Linked DNA regions of Homo sapiens: region 1 is linked to region 2. The links come from fine-mapping of genetic effects on gene expression. A gene starts in region 2. The other region holds a variant in brackets. All regions are shown on one strand. Distances are from middle to middle.

The links. PIP is the estimated chance that this variant, and not a neighbour inherited with it, causes the effect.
Region 1: its variant is fine-mapped to the expression of DYNC1I1 in esophagus mucosa (GTEx, PIP above 0.99).

The regions. Positions count from the first base shown.
Region 1 is chr7:95,925,585-95,933,927 of GRCh38, forward strand. The region is part of intron 6 of DYNC1I1 (dynein cytoplasmic 1 intermediate chain 1); the gene reads left to right. Among named protein-coding and RNA genes, the nearest start is that of DYNC1I1, 160 kb to the left of the region's middle. The variant A/G (reference allele first, on the strand shown) is at 3,497.
Region 2 is chr7:95,768,203-95,776,545 of GRCh38, forward strand. It overlaps DYNC1I1 (dynein cytoplasmic 1 intermediate chain 1), which reads left to right and starts at 4,352. Exons shown (of 17, transcript NM_001135556.2): 1 at 4,352-4,571.

The DNA.
Region 1 (8,343 bases), 160 kb after region 2:
CCCTTCTAAAGGTGGCATAAACGCTGTAACATTTCTATTGATTTTTAACATCCAGCTCTCTAGAAAACAGAAAATAGCCAAAATTTGACAGGCATTTTACAAAATAATCTGATCCTTCATAGATGCAGAGTAAGAGCTTTGTTCACAAGTGACATTTGTGCTTAAACTTGGATCAAACCTTCCTTGTTTCTTTCTTATGCCAGTTTTATTATGTGGAGTTGAATTACATTTTACTGGATTTAAAATAATGCTTTAAACGTTATTTTGTCTTCTTTAGTTTTTCTTTTTATCATTTAAATATCTGTAGCCTCAAACTCATAAAAGGAGAGTACAAACTTCTAATAAAGTTCCTTAATATTTACCCTGATGCATAAATTAAAGAAATCCAAATTTAAACAAGGAGCCCTGTTGCATATATTTAGTTGTCAAATATAATGCCCAGGGTTGGCAAGGGTGTGCATTAAGCAGCTCCAGAGGAGAGTGCTACAGGAGTTAAAAATCATCTTCATCTTGCTGAAAGGCAGCTTGGTTTTACTGATCATCATAAGATTTCAAACAATGTACATACTGAGCAATTCAATTTCTGGGAATTGTTCCTGCAGGAAGTAATTAAGAATGACAGGAAAGATTTAACTAGACTGTAAGAATGCTCATTGCAGTATTCTTTATAATATCACAAAGTAAAAAATCTAGAAATACTATTACTGGTAGACTAGCTATATAAATTAAGATGCATTTATACTGTGAAGTACTATTTAGCCATTTTAAATGACAGCTTATAATATATTTTAAGTTAAAAAAAGTTACAAAATAAATACATTACAAAAATGTATGTGAATCTGATTTGATACTGATAAAATGATATCTATTTTATACACATGCATAGAAAAGACTGAAATGGTTACAAAAAATGATTAATGTTGGTTATTTCTGAATGTTAGAATTATAAGGGTTTTGTTTTTTATTTTTAGATGTATTTATTTTTTCCCTTTGAGAAGGTACAGTAACTTTGGCTTCATGGACAGTTTTCCGAAACTGTTTTCAAAGACATTAAAATTTTCCTCATCTCTCTATACGTGGTTAGATGAATAAAAGGTACATAAACTTAAAGTAAGGATAAGACACAAGTGAGGGATGTGAAGGAACCACACTGTGATTCAGACTACCTCCTCTACCTGTCTATTAACTGTCTTAATAGCTACACTGTTGACCTTGTTCTTTTATAATCATAATGATCCACCTGCCCTCTCCTGAGACTCTTTTTCAACATGGACAGCACTTGTCGTCCCTCCCATATCATATTGTGTTTAATTTAATCTTTAGCAGATAGATACAGAGTGTGTGTTCAAACTAGTTTTTTCATTTGTTAAGGTGCTTTGGAATTGTAATCCAAATTTCGAACAAATTATATACTCAAAATATATGACAATACAATGAAATTTTTGTAAAAATATTTTAACAAACTGACCTCATGAGCAAAAACTGCTGTAGTTTTTAATAATTCTGTTTACAGATGATTTTATTCCAGTATGTGAATCTTCCCAAGCAAAGAGGGGAAAAAAAGTGTTCATTTTTAAAAATGACATCATGGAAGTCCTTAAAGCATCTAATACAAGTTAATGAACTCTGCAACCATTTATACTAGCCCTAATATATTATATATACGCACCTGGAAAGTCATCCAACAGATACTTACCTGAACTTCAAAAAGTTGTCAGTCTAGTAGGGGAGGTGACCGTCCATACAATGAGAGGCAGAACATAACAATAGTCAGAAGACAGGCAAATCTAAGGGCTACGGGAGCGTCACAAGGGAAAGGGAAGTGTTAGGGATGGGGTGATAGTAGAGGTGGCATTTGTGTTAGGACTTAAGGCCATTATTGGATTAACTGAGAATATTGAATATGAATAGTGGATTAGTTAAAAATACTATATAGATGTTAAATTTATTGAGCTTGATAACTGTTCTATGGGTTATGGAAGAATGTATCCCTTTAATTAGGAGATACACGAAGAAGTATGGGGATGGGGGAGAGAGTGAGAGGATGGCTGAGCAAATGATAACATGAAACATTAACAATAGTTGAGTGTGGGGGTAAAGGGCATACAGACACTCTTCATACTATTTTTATTTTTGCAATCTAACCGTTAGTTTGAAATCATTTCCCAGTAAAAAGTCTTTTAAAATCCAGCTCTCAGATAAGAGGCAACAGAGGATAGCTGTCCTTATTCACTGCCTTCTGAAGACCAGAACTGATGCCAGCTGCTTTTTTATTTCCCCCAAAATGTGGTTCACGCTAGTTATTTGTTGACTTCACCAAACCACCGCATAATTTCACACAACCCAGGATGGAGGGTAGCAGCGTCTGTTTCACAGAACCCAAGGCCTGAAATAGCAGGAGGGCTGTGTTGTGGTGTGGCGTGGAAGCCTGCGCCCTGCCAGCCACACTTGGCCTGGTTTCAGCAGTTTGCTATCAGACCCTACATTATGGAAGAACAGCCAGGGCAAATAAAATGGAGAGTCAGACTTACAAAACAAAGCTTCCTGCCTCCCAACTAGTACTGCCTTGCTTCCTCCTTCAGGATAGCACCCATTTCTGTAGATATTTCCTGGTAGAAATGTTGTGACTTCCCTGACATTGCTGTTAAATTGTAGTTCCTGCAAAAGGAGGCCAAGTCCTCATTTCTGGTGTCCAGATAACCTCCTCCAGGTATTTTCTCAATATGGTTCAGACCTAAGTTACTTTATTTCCTGTGCCTTTTAAAGACACCTCTATTCAAAAAACACATTTTCCAGAGTGCTGTAAGTTTTAAAGACCCCAAGTGACAATGTGCCTGAAGAGGAAATCAGCCCCCTGTTAGTGCAAGGAGCTGAGTGGCTGAAGAAGCCCAGACTGTAGTGGGCTTGGGAACTGGCTAGAGCCTGTTCTCTGCACGGGCTCCCACTGCCACACAGGCTGCAGGGGGAGTATCAGTGCCCCACCCCACTCCCCAGATTCCAAGGGCGCACTTAATGTTCACCACGTGCAGTGTTTGTCACCTGGGCTTCAGTGTTAGTGCCGCCAGGTTCCAGCAGTGGCTGTTCTCTGTTGCCTTTTACCTGAGAGCTGGCTTTTAAAAGACTTTTTACTGGGAAATGATTTCAACTGGCTAATACGGCCATGGGCAGTTAGTGAGCTTCACTAAGCCTCAGTTTTGGCATCCACCAAATGGAGATAATAATAGTCTCCAGCTCCTAGAGTTGTGAGGATGAAATGCAACAGACAATGCATATAAATTATGAAGCATAAGTGGTGGTTCTTGCTGTTTTCTTGTGCTTGTTAAGAGTATTACTATGTGAGCCTGGCTTCTTTCCTTTCTCCCTCCCTTCCGTCCCCAAACTTACCGGTATTACACAGTTGATACAACAGTGTTCAAGATACTCCTCGTTTGAAGATAAGAGTCCTGCAACTGGGTACGAGTAAAGTGTCCTTTGGAAAACTGTGATGTACTCAACA[A/G]ATGCATAAAGATGAGCATGTTTTAATTGTCCAGGCCCACACAATGTGGATGATTTTCATATTCTATCACTAGTATTTTCTGCTCTTCCATCCTGCAATGCCCTAACCTCCCAGGGTGCCCATGCCTAGAATATCCCTTTCCTTCACCCTGTATTTATTGAACTCAGTCCTCAAAGGCTGGCTGAGTGTCACCTACTGTGATCTTTGCTCACAATGAGAGCAGAAGAAATTGCTCCTGGAACTCCCTTTACCTAACACTGTAATATGTAATACTTTTTATGTTTTATGTAACCTTATTACATAAAATGATATGGTTTTGCTTTTTATACTCATCTCTCCTACTTGAATATAAGTTTCTGGAGGCTAAAGCTTGTCATATTTTTCCTAGTTCCTTCATAGAGCCTGGAAAGTATGCTGCTCATTAACAATTGTGCTGGGGTTGTTTGTTGTTGCTTGTAAATTTTTTGAAAGCGTAAAAGCATGCAGGAAAGTACTCAAATCAGGAGTGTACAACTTGATATTTTTGACATGAACATACCATGAAACCAGTCTTCAGATCAAGATTCAGAATATAAGGAGAAACCCAGAAGTCCATATTCAGTCTCTCCTCCCCCAAGGGTAACCACTACATCATAGATTAGTTATGCCCCTTATTAAATTTTCTACAAATGTCATCATATGGTACATATGCATTCATGGCTAACATCTTTCATTTCACATTATGTTTCAGAAGCATTCATGCTGTTGTATGTAGATGTGGTTCATTCACTACCATGACTATGTAGTATTTCACTGTGTGACTATGCCATTATTTATTTATCCATTCTGCTGCTGATAGACCTTGGGAAGTAACTGTTTTGTGAACTGAAATGAATACTAACATCTGGCTCTTAAGAAATATTTCCCAAGGAAAGGGTGACAGCACAGAAGGTTAGATTCACGAATGCTAGAGAAGTAGCCCTGATTTCTCACTTTTTCAAAGAGCATTGACAGATGGCTCCCCATATCAAGAGCCAGCACAATCTTTCAGAATCAGGACAGCCCATTTTCCCAGACCATGTGATATTTATTCTATTCTAGCCTGGCTGGTTGCTAAATTGGTAAAGATCAGAGAGCTTTTGGGCACAGTGGTGTTCTTAGAATTCTGTTTTGCTATTAAATATTGGCCTACAAATATATAGCTAAATGTGTTTTACTAATGATTGGGGTGGCATTAATTGTAATTACTTGTCAATCTAACTTGTTGCTGGTGTCTTAATTTCCAGCATATCTGAGAGGTTTTTAAAGGATTTCACTAGCAGTTTGGTAAGTCATTTGTCAATAAATGATGAAAAGGTTGGGCTATTTATATTTCAATGTTACCATTTTAATGGGCAACTGTCTATGTACTGTCCACCGCAGAAATGCTTTTTCCTCCCTTTTCTTGAGGAAAGTGTCTAAGGTGGAGGGAGGTCTGGTTGCTATGGATATCTGAAATTTTATGTTTACAATTTAAGAGGTAAGCTGAAACCTCACTATTTGGTCTCCACCTGAGTGGCATTCACATTTAGAAATTACAAGATTGTTATTGGCTATCTGGAGCTTGAGGATGTGGCTGAGTCCTGGCAGTTAATTAAAACTAGGCTGGTTTTCAATATCAGAATTATTCAGCCTGTTTTGGTAGGATGTCCGTAAAGTCCTCACTACCTTGCAATGTGTTTTTGATGTAAAAAAAATATTTAAAAAGGAAACATAACAGGGTAGCTTGTCCTCATTTACTGGAGAGGTTGGTTGCTCCATAAGCTTTTCAGAGTGGGATTCTGCCCCCATTGTTTCTTGTCTGTTAGCTCTGTAGGTTCTAGGCTACAGTATTTCAGTGTTCACAGGACAGCTAATTGGAGAACAAAGCCCTGGCATTTTCCTGGAAGGAAGATTGCTTCATGTGATGCTTATTGGGAAGATCGTAGAAAAACTGGTTAATTCAGAGTATTGCTGCATTAAATGTCAGGTGAAATATTTTCTAATTATTCTTTTATTATCAGTTTAATCTTTTAAATATGTTTTTAAGTATAGAAGTAACTCATGAATACTTTTTTTTTTTTTGGAGACAGAGTCTCACTTTGTAGCCCAGGCTGGAGTGCAGTGGCGCAATCTCGGCTCACTGCAACTTCCATTCCACCTCCCAGTTCAAGCAATTCTGGTGTCTCAGCCGCCTGAGTAGCTGGAATTACAGGTTTGCACCACCACACCCAGCTAACTTTTGCATTTTTTGTAGAGATGGGGTTTCGCCATGTTGGCCAGGCTGGTCTCAAACTCCTGGCCTCAAGTGATCCACCCACTCGGCCTCTCAAAGTGCTGGGATTACAGGCGTGAGCCACTGCGCCCGGCCTATGACTACATTTTTAACTTAAAAGAATCTAATAATACTGATAAAGAGAAAATTCCACTTGACTTATTTTCATCAGTTCTAGTTTGTTCCACATAGATATTCCTTTCATCAGACTAGTTTGTATTGTTCTAGTTCAGAGGTCAGCAAGTTCTAACCCAAAGGCCAATCCAGCTCCCTACCTGTTTTTGTAAATAAAGTTTTGTTGAAACACAGCCACGCCCATTTATTTACATATTGTCCCTGGCTGCTGTCACACTGCAACAGCTCAGCTGTGTAGCCGCAATACAGACCACATGGCCCCCAAAGCCTGAAATGTTTACTGACTAGCGCTTTACAGAAAAATTTTGTTGATCTCTGTTCTAGATCATTTTCGTTTGCATTTTTTATATTTAAATTAATATACAGCTAAATGTTATTTTACTATTGATTGTGGTGGCGTTAATCATAATGACTTGTCAGTCTAACTTGCTGCCAGCGTCTTAATTTCCAACATGTCTGAAAGGTTTTAAAGGATTTCACAATATGCAATTTTATATTTACTATTTATATATGTATAATTGTGTCTATTTTTACATAAATGGTATTATATAGTACATATTGCTCAATACCTATTTTTCCATTTAACAGAATACCTTCAAGATTTGCTGTTCATGTCAAAATATGTTGCTCTCTACCTCATTCTGTTTAGCTGTCACATATTGTCCATAGCAGGATAAAGTTAAACTTATTTTATCATCTCCTATGGGTGACTATGTAGCTTATATTCAGCTTTTACTGTTGAAAGGAATGCAGCAATAAAAACTGGCAAAAGTCTCTATTTCTCCTACCAGTACTGGAAAATCACATACACACTATGGCGGCACATTTTCACAACAGAGAAATTAATGTGATAATCATGGCTACTATAAAGAAAAAAGGGGTTAATTAACTTGGTCAGGGACTTCAAACATGACAGTGGGCATTATTCAGAATGGACATTTTATGCTTCTAATTGCTGGGCAGGGACTACTCTAGGGAAAGGCCTGAGCAGAATGGAAAAATCTGTCTACCTAAAGGACATATGAAGGAATTAGAAGTGTCCTTGGGTAGGGTATTTGTCAGCTTGACCCCGCCTGAGAAAATGTCAAGATCACACTGCATATATTAGAAACATGAAACCATTGAATATGTCAAGCTTCTAGGAACTTCCACAATTATCAAGTTGAACCCTTTCCATTTTTAGATGAGGACACCAAGCCTCACAAATGTTAAGTGATTTGTTCAAGATCATAGTAGTAGGTTTCGATCATGGCTTAGCTTGTCCACTGACACTAGAACCAGGGGCTAAAAGTTGAAATACCTGATTTTTACAACTCAGAAGGCATAAGACTTACAGTAGCACATCATTTTAAAGTTTTCTAGTTTGTCAGACTATCTTTATTTATTTTTTAATTTTTTTTTTTTTTTTGAGATGACAATGTCTCACTCTATTGCCCAGACTTGAGTACAGTGGCACAATCATAGCTCATTTCAGCCTTGAATTCCTGGGCTCAAGTGATCCTCCTGCCTCAGCTTCCTGAGTGTCTGGGCCTGCAGGCTTGTGTCATCACACTTGGCTAATTTTTAAATGTTTTAGTAGAGATGGGGGTCTCACCATGTTGCCCAGGCTGGTCTCAAAATCCTGTCCTCAAGCAATCCTCCCACCTTGGCCTCCCGAAGTGCTGGGATTACAGATGTGAGCCACAGCAGCCAGCACAGAGAATCTTTATTTATACTTTTTAAAAACATAATCTCTAAATATGAAAATTCATATTAGAGTAGCTTCATTTGTGATAAAATATCAGCTGTCATTGTCTCAGCAACCACAGCAAAGAAGAGTCCAAATGAATCCACAGCCGGTTTGAGATTCTCATTCCTAACAATGCCAGTCTGTTTGTTCATGTGTATTAAAGTATCATTAGAAAGGAAGCAGCCTCAGATGAAGCCATTTTAGCCATTGATGTGTCTCAAAAGGGTTAATCAGATACAGAAACTTAACAATTTCTAGAATTGTAAGGAAATAATTTTGTTTCTTGTAAAGCAAGAGTAATAATTGATGCTCACGTGAATTGACATTTTTGGTAGCTTAGAAATGGCACCAAATGTGGGTTTTGGCAAAACCTATATTTTCATGAAGAAATGGCTTTTAAACATGTTGGCATTTCTGTTCATGATAGACACACCATTTGAATCCAAACCCTTGCAGAGGTGACATGACACTGCACTGAAGGCAGTGACACATTTTTTTTAAAAAAAACTTCACATAAAATTATGTAAACACTTAAAGTGAATGAGACACCTGCCTTTGAGACACCCGCCTTTCAGTCGCCCTTGTTATGCCACCCACAGCCTTTTCTCCTTGGCTATTCTTAGCAGGATTTATTTTGAGCCTAGTGGTGGTAAAAGATGTAACATAAAATGAAACCCGACACTTAGAGCTCCCTATTATTAATTCATAAAT
Region 2 (8,343 bases):
TTGCTTTCTGCCATAATTGTAAGGTTGTTGAGGCCCTCACCAGAAGCAGATGCCAGTACCATGCTTCTTGTACAGCCTGCAGAACCATGAGCCACAGTAAACTTCTTTTCTTTATAAATTACCCAGCCTCTGGGGTTCCTTTATATCAATGCAAATGGACTAATACAAACCCTCATGGATGACTTTGAGGGGCTCAAAACTTAAGTGAAGGAAATCACTGAAGATGTAATAAAAATAGCAGGAGAACTAGAATTAGAAGTAGAGTCTGAAGATGTGACTGAATTGCTGCAATCTCATAATAAAACTTCAATGAATGAGAAGTTGCTTCTTATGGAAGAGCAAAGAAAGTGATATACTGAGATGGGAACTACTGCTGGTGAAAATGCTATGAACATTGTTGAAATGATGACAAAGGATTTCGAATATTACATAAACGTATTTGATAAAGCAGTGGCAGGGTTTGACATAGTTCACTTCAGTTTTGAAGGTTCTGTGGATAAAGGGCTACCAAACACACACTGCATGCCTGTATCAAAATGTCTCCTGTACCTCATAAATACTAAATACCTTCTATGTGCCCATAAATTTGTTTAAATGCTATCAAAGAGCATGACATGCTACAGAGAAATCTTTCATGAAAAGAAGAATCAATGGATGAGGCAAACATCATTGTTGTCTTATTTTAAGACATTACCACAGCTACCCCACCTTCAGCAACAACCACCCTGATCAGTCAACAGCCATCAACATTGAGGCAAGACTCTCCACCAGCAAAAAGATTACAACTCACTGATGGCTCAAATGATTATTAGCATTTGTTAGCAATAAAGTATTTTTAAATTAAGACATGTATATGTTTTAGACATAATGCTATTGCACACTTAATAGGCCACAGTATAGTGTAAACATAACTATTATATACACTAGGAAACAAAAAAATGTGTATGACTCACTTTTATTGTGATATTTGGTGATGTGAAACTGAGCTCACAATATCTCCGTAGTATGCCTGCATTTTCTTTTTCTACAATTTTGACTACTTTAGATACTTCATATGAGTGGAATCATACACTATTTTACTTTTTGTAACTGACTTATTTCACTTACGACAGTGTCCTTCAAGTTCATCCACACTGTAGCATGTGACAGGATTTTCTTCCTTTTTAAATATAAAATTTTACTGTATGCATATATATTCCAAATTTTCTTTACTTATTCATCTGTTCATGAACATTTGGGTTGCTTCCACCTCTTGGCTATTGTGAATAATGTTGCATTGAACATGAATGTGCAAATATCTCTCTGAAATCCTACTTTGAATTATTTTGGTTAAATACTGAGAAGTGATAATATTATAACTAACTTTGAAATTGAGGGCTTAATTTGCTGTGGGCATACATTACAGGCTATTTGTCATGAATACAACTTGGCAAACTCAGGCCTTTTAAATCCTGACCTGGATTCTTTGAATGAACTTTAAACTTGTCTCTTAAGCTTTTGCTTGTTCAATCCTCTACCCGAAGATAGCCCCAGATGACTCTTCCCAAGTGTCATTCTCTACTCAAAGGCCTTTAATGATTCTCCATTATCTGCTCTACAGCCCTTCTCAAGGCCCCAGTTGGCTCTCCCATGAGTCTGTCATGATCCAAAAAGCTGGCCCACTCACTATTTGCTGAGTACACTTTGTTCTTTCTCTTCTTTGGAGCTTTGTTTACGCCTGAAAATGTTCTCTGCTCTTCATTTCTGCTCTAAAACCCTACCTATTTCAATACTATCTATTGTCATAATTCTAATTTCCTCCTTCCATCTCATCCACCCAAACCATTGTACTGCTTTGGGTATTTCCTTATTGTTTGTCCTTAATTATGTTGCCTTTACCTATCCTTGCACCTCCAACTGGATTTTAACCCCTTCAAGAAGAGGGATTATATTCTCTTTTTTAAATCATGTGAAGCTCCAAGCACAATGCTTTGCAGGTTGTGTGCGATGCAGTACAGGGGAGCCCCCAAATTAATTGGAGCTTAGCTCGCAAAGGTTCTTGGCTTTGCCCAGGAAAGAATTTAAGGGTGAGCCAGTGGTAGGGTTGAAAAGTACAGCTTTGTTGAAGTGGCAGTGTTACAGCTCTGATGGTGTTACAGCTCTGTGACTGTTCCTGCAGAGCAAGGCTACCCCACAGGCAGAAAGTAACAGCTCAGGGTAGTTTTGCAGTCATATTTGTACCTACTTTAATTACTTGTAGATCAAGGGGTAGTTTATGCAGAATTTTTAGGGAAAGGGTAGTAACTTCTGGGTCATGGGGTCATTGCCATGGAAGGGAGTGGTAACTCCTGGGTTTTGCCACGGCAGTGGTAAATTGACATGGCACACTGGTGAGCATCTCTTATGGAAAGCTGCCTCCGCCCCATCCCTGTTTTAGCTAGTCTTCAATTTGGTCCAGTGTCTAAGTCCCAGCTCCTACTTCGTGGGCACTCAACAATGCCATGTTGAGGCCAGGCATGGTGGCTCACACCTGTAATCCCAGCACTTTGGGAGGCTGAGGCAGGCAGATCACTTGAGGTCAGGAGTTCGAGACCAGCCTGGCCAACATGGAGAAATGCCATCTCTACTAAAAATACAAAAATTAGCCGGGCTAGGTGGTGTGCACCTGTAATCTTAGCTACTCAGGAAGCTGAGGAAGGAGAATCGCTTGAACCCAGGAGATGGAGGTTTCAGTGAGCCGAGATTGTGCCACTGCATTCCAGCCTGGGCATCAGAGGGAGACTCTGTCTCAAAAAACAAACAAACAAACAAACAAAACAACAACAACAACAAAAGCAATGCCATGTTGGAAAGACCAAAATACAAAGTAGTTAAAGTACAAGCTGCAGATGAATGGGAATTCAAATCTCAGCTAGATCACTCAGTGGTTATGGAACTTGGGCAAGGGAGTTAACTTCTTTGACTCAAGTTCCTTTTCTGGAGGCATGGCATTCGTTATATGTACTACATAATGTTATAGAAAAGTTAAAGAAAAATGTATGTAGAATTGACATGTATTAAATATTCAGTCACGGTAGTGGCAAATATTTATTTCCTAGATTTTTCCTTCTGGAATACCTTGAATACCTTCTACCTAGACATTTAACCTCTTCATTTCTAGCCATAGTTACAATCGCAGTAGATTAGCCAGGGAGGCCAAAGTTTTAGAATAAGGATGGCCATTTACAGATGAGTATGTATTCATACTGTATTCATACTAGAATCTGTATTTATTTTGAAATTACTGTAGTACTTGTGAATTAATAAGTTCATAAATATTTACTGAGTACCCATTATATATCAGAATGCTGTTCTAGATACTAAGAATACAGCAGTGAACAAGATAGCGTCCCTGCCCTCCACTAATTTACATTCTAATGTGTAAAAATACACCACAGATGTGCAAGAAATATGATGAAAAGCTCATCTATAAAATGATACCAAACCCCCTAACATCCCAAACTCAATTTTTTGGCCTTATAACTTAGCTGTTGTGGCAAGCTTGTTTTTTGCAGAGTCCAATAATAGTTACCCAGATTTTTTTTTGTTTCCCCGAGACGGAGTTTCGCTCTTGTTGCCCAGGCTTTGAGTGCAGTGGCGGGATCTCGGTTCACCACAACCTCCGCCTCCCGGGTTCAACCATTCTCCTGCCTTAGCCTCCCGAGTAGCTGGGATTACTGGCATGCACCACCACGCCCGGCTAATTTTGTATTTTTAGTAGAGACGGGGTTTTTTCATGTTGGTCAGGCTGGTCCCCCAACTCTCGACCTCAGGTGATCCGCCCTCCTCGGCCTCCCAAAGTGCTTGGATTACAGGCGTGAGCCACCGCGTCTGGCCAGTTACCCAGATTTTTAAAAGCTGGGACTTTAAGAAGCAATGTGAAGACAAGCTACACACACACCACACCACACACACACACACACACACACACACACACACAGACACACACACTTAATTCTTTTTTCTTCTAGAAAAATTGGGATCAATCAGACCTATAAGTCATTGTGTACAACAGGTAGATCTGAGCTTTATTTCTATTTAAATGACCTTAAGAAGTGTAGTTGCCTGGGAGTGAAAGTTGTTCAATGGTGGCATTTCAGCAGGAGCTCCCAGAATATTGAAGCTCTTCTCTTTGCAGCAACTGAGGTCTAAGTCCTACCGACGTTAGAGGGATAGACGAATTGACCTTTCCAGGTCCTCTGCTCGCCACCAGCCTACGGAGCGGCGCCACCCCCTCCTGGCGAGACCGGGCGCGGAAGACGCGGAGCGGAGGCCCTCCCTCAGGAGGGGCGCGGGCGTGGAGGGCGTGGGCAGGGGGCGGGGCGAGCCCCGCAGACTGAGTGCTCCGGGGAGCTGTCAGTGTCAGGCTCTGGGAGAGAGGAAGTGATCGCTCCCGGAGGAGCGCGAGCCGAGCGGCCGGCGCAGCGTGAGACAGCACATCCTGCCCGCGCCGGCCCCGCCACCTTCGGGAGCCGCCTGCACCAACGCTGCCGCCGCCCAGGAGCCGCCGCCGGCTCGGGGAGCCCAGTTCCGCCGCTGCCGAGCGCGTCCAGGTAAACTGGAGCGGGATGTCGCCGCTCCCCGGACGGCCGCCTCCGCACCTCTCCCCAACCCTCCCCACCCCGGTGTCGTCTGCGCTGGGAACCAGGCTGGAGCCGAGGCCCCTGCAGCCGCAGCCGGACCCTTGTCCTGGCCCCCTGCCCAGGCTCCTGCGTGCTCCGCTGAGCCCGAAGGCGGCCAAAGCCCCCCAGTGACACCCCCCTCTCGGCAGAGCCGAGAGACTAGGGCAGAGAAGGAAGGGTCGTGGTGTCACCACCTGGTCGCCCACCTTGTGGGCTGGGAAGGGCGTCCCAGTGCGCCCCGCCTCGGTCTTCCCCGGGGGAGCAGTGGGCGAGCGGCGCTGAAATCTGCACCCCTCTGGGCCACCGGCTGACTGCCCCTGGAGGAGGGGGAAAGCTGCAGAGGGAGGGGAAAGGATGCTGTTTGATTACATTTCGAGCTGTCTGCAAAGCTCTTAGATGCTGTCACTACCCTGCAAGTCGGAGGGAGCGAATTCACTTCCAGCAGGGCATTAATTAAACACTTCAAAGCGAGAAGATGCCAGTTTCTCTCTGCTGCGAAAAAGTGTGGCTGGGGGATGTTGTTTTGGTAAACACCTTCACGGCCGCCTGGCTCTCCTTCCCCCGCTCCCATTCGGAATCGCTCTGGCCTTATAAATCCGTGCGTCGTCATCATAAGGGCAGTGATCCTGGCAGCGCTGATGGGAACTGAGTGTGCGGGAGTCTCATGACTTGTACCTTGGCTAATAAGATTAAACAGAAGCCCAGGATCAGGACAGGAAATTACATAGGAGATCAGAGACTCAACAACATGCAGAAGATGGAATATATTCGCTATTCTGGCCTCTACTAATCCTAGGTAAGGGGCAGGAACAAGTAGCCAGCCATTTTCTTGCTTGGAATGCCTTTCAAGTGGGCATTGTAGACTTATTGTAGTTCAGAGTTGTGAAGAATTGCTTCCAAATATTCCAGATTAGCAAAAAGTATAGCTAACAGTAAGGCATAGGCAACTGCAGGTGACAACCCAACGCCTGATGTTAACACAGACATGGGTAACCAGTCTGTGTACATACTTTAATTGTGGAAATTATAGAGATATACGTTGATCAGTGTTAGTAAATTTGAAAAGGGAATATTCAGTGCAATTTGCAAGCTGAGGGTACTGGTGAGAATGTAATACTACCTCTAATTATTTAAAATGCCAAGTTTGTTCAAAAAGGTTTGGTGTGGAAAAAGGGGTCCTAACTCAGCTCTTTTGATCATATTTCTCAATAAAATAAAATCTGAAACACCTGCCACTGAGTTACCACATGTTCTCTTCATAAGAACTAACTCTCGAATATTTGTTTAGGTCTGAGGATCCAGTGCTCCAAGACCCATTCCTCTTAAAACCTCTAGCACCATCCTTGGGAAGTTTTTAGAATACAGTTGGGGGTCGAATGCAGGCTTTTCCAGCCTGTCAAGCTCTTAGCCCTGTTTCTGGCCCACAGCATCTCAGCATTTTACTTTGTCTTCCTTGTCTCAGGCCTCAGATACAAATGCACTTGCTTCCTCCTTCTTTGGACCTCTGAGATGCTGCAGCCGCTGGTGCACAGTCCCCTGGAGGAGGAGGGGCTGGCTTGCAGTCCTTCCCCACCCCCAGCCTTTCCTCCCTCTTTGCTATTGAAAACATGCATGATTGTTTTACTGTTAAAGCTTTAGGTAAATCACCAGTAGGGATATGAGCAGAGAAAATAAACTCGACCCGCAGGAAAAGGGGCAGAGTTCTTAAAGTAGTGGTCCATGGTCTTCAGTTTCTGACTAACTTCGAAGAGAGTAAGAAGTCACTTGGCATTTCAGTCACCATGTTTTATATCTCAGAGAAGGCTCTAGGGTCTTTCTTCCCAATCCCTCTGCTTCCAAAAATACTCCTTCCCGAGTCTACGTTTAATAAATGAGCCTTGCCTTTGATGACAGTGCTGAGTCAAGGATCCAGCCTGGGTGCTGCTCTGTCCATAAAAACAGCGATGTAGACCAGTCTTGTAAAATGCATGCCAAATCTGAAATCTAGGTACCCCTCTTAGTACAGACAGTGTGCACCGGCTTCATCCTGTTACCGTTTTCTCCAGTTTCTTTGTTGTTTAACGTAGCATCAAATGAAAAGGTCACATGCATCTGTTTCAAAATCTGTTTCAAACAAATATATTCCTTCATTACTTTATTCTCCCTACACTTGAAACAAAGATTGATAACAGTAGCTAAAATATATTGAGCACTTTACCAGGCATTGCATTTTAAAATACTTTCACAGGTGTTAACTTATTTAAACATCACAAAAATCTTATGAGGCAGATATTGTTTGTAATCCTGTTTTACAGATGAGGAAACTAAGACACAAAGGTGTCAAGTAACTTTTGCTCAGCTACTAAGTTGAGCAAGGCAGCATTTGAATCAAGGCCTGACTCCAGGCCAGGAGTTTTAACCTCTCTCTTCCGTACTATGAAACAATTACACTGGTTAATTTTCATATATTGAATACCAAGCTCTTCTCTTATCTCATTTTAATTCTTATATTAATCCTATGAAGTAGACATTATTATCCATATTTTCCAAATAATTAAATGAGTTAAATGACATACTCAACATCATTTAATAAATGGCAGAGGTAGGATTCAAATGAGATCTCTCCAAAGACTCTAAAACTAGGACCCATCCATTTTGGCTATTGTGCTGTGTGAGAGACAAAAAAGCGAGTGTATGTCTGTATCTTTCAGGTTTGCTCTCCAATTTCAGTGTGATCCATTGTTATTTTCTTAAAGCCACAAGTATAGCCGCACTTTTTGCCAGTTGATTGGTAACTGTGAATAATATATGCACACTCAAAGTAGACCCATGGCCCCTTAAAATAAATTATGGCATTGTTTTTGTCTCCTTAATGAAAGTAGCTGTTATACTTTGTGGATCTCAAATGCTGTGTAAATAGTTGCTACCTTAATCAGGGATCTCTTTTACTAGAAATCTTTGTGGCTTCTGCATCCCCTAGAGCATGTGAGAACATATATTCTCCTGGGAACTGTGCTGGAACTAGGAACTTCTAGAGTTGACTTTTTTGTTTTGAGAGTTAACTCAAATTAATTCAACTCTCATTTTTCTTCTTTGCAATGTATAAACCCTTGACGAGGTCCATGTAAAAGTTATTCCTCTTGACTGGGCACAGTAGCTTACACCTGTAATCTCAGCACTTTGGGAAGCCAAGGCAGACCAATCACTTGAGGCCAGGAGTTAGAGACCAGGCTGGAGGCTCGTGCCTGTAATCCCAGGCTACTCGGGAGGCTGAGACAGGACAATCACTTGAGCCCAGGAGGCAGAGGTTGCAGTGAGACGAGATTGCACCACTGCAGTCCAGCCTGGGCGACAGAGCAAGGCCCTGTCTTAAAAAAGAAAAAAATTATTCCTCTTGACAGAGACTTTTCATCAATATCCTGGACTTGTGTTCCTTGATTCCTCTCTGAGTGAGGCCTGGCCCCAGAATCTCAGAGTGAAGTTTCCATCGTAACATAGATACCTCTGCCTAGGTGCTAATCCTCATGAGCTCACATATTCATAAAACATCCTTGATTCTTTGTTGGAGGAACCTTCTTAAACAAAAACCCATAGATACTGTAAAAGGGAGGCATACGAATGGTTTTCAGATGGTCATTGAACCCACTAAAATTGAGGCAAATTTTCATGCATTTGTGCATAAATGTAGTTTTCTAGGGAAAAAATGGGGATATTGCTAACTAAA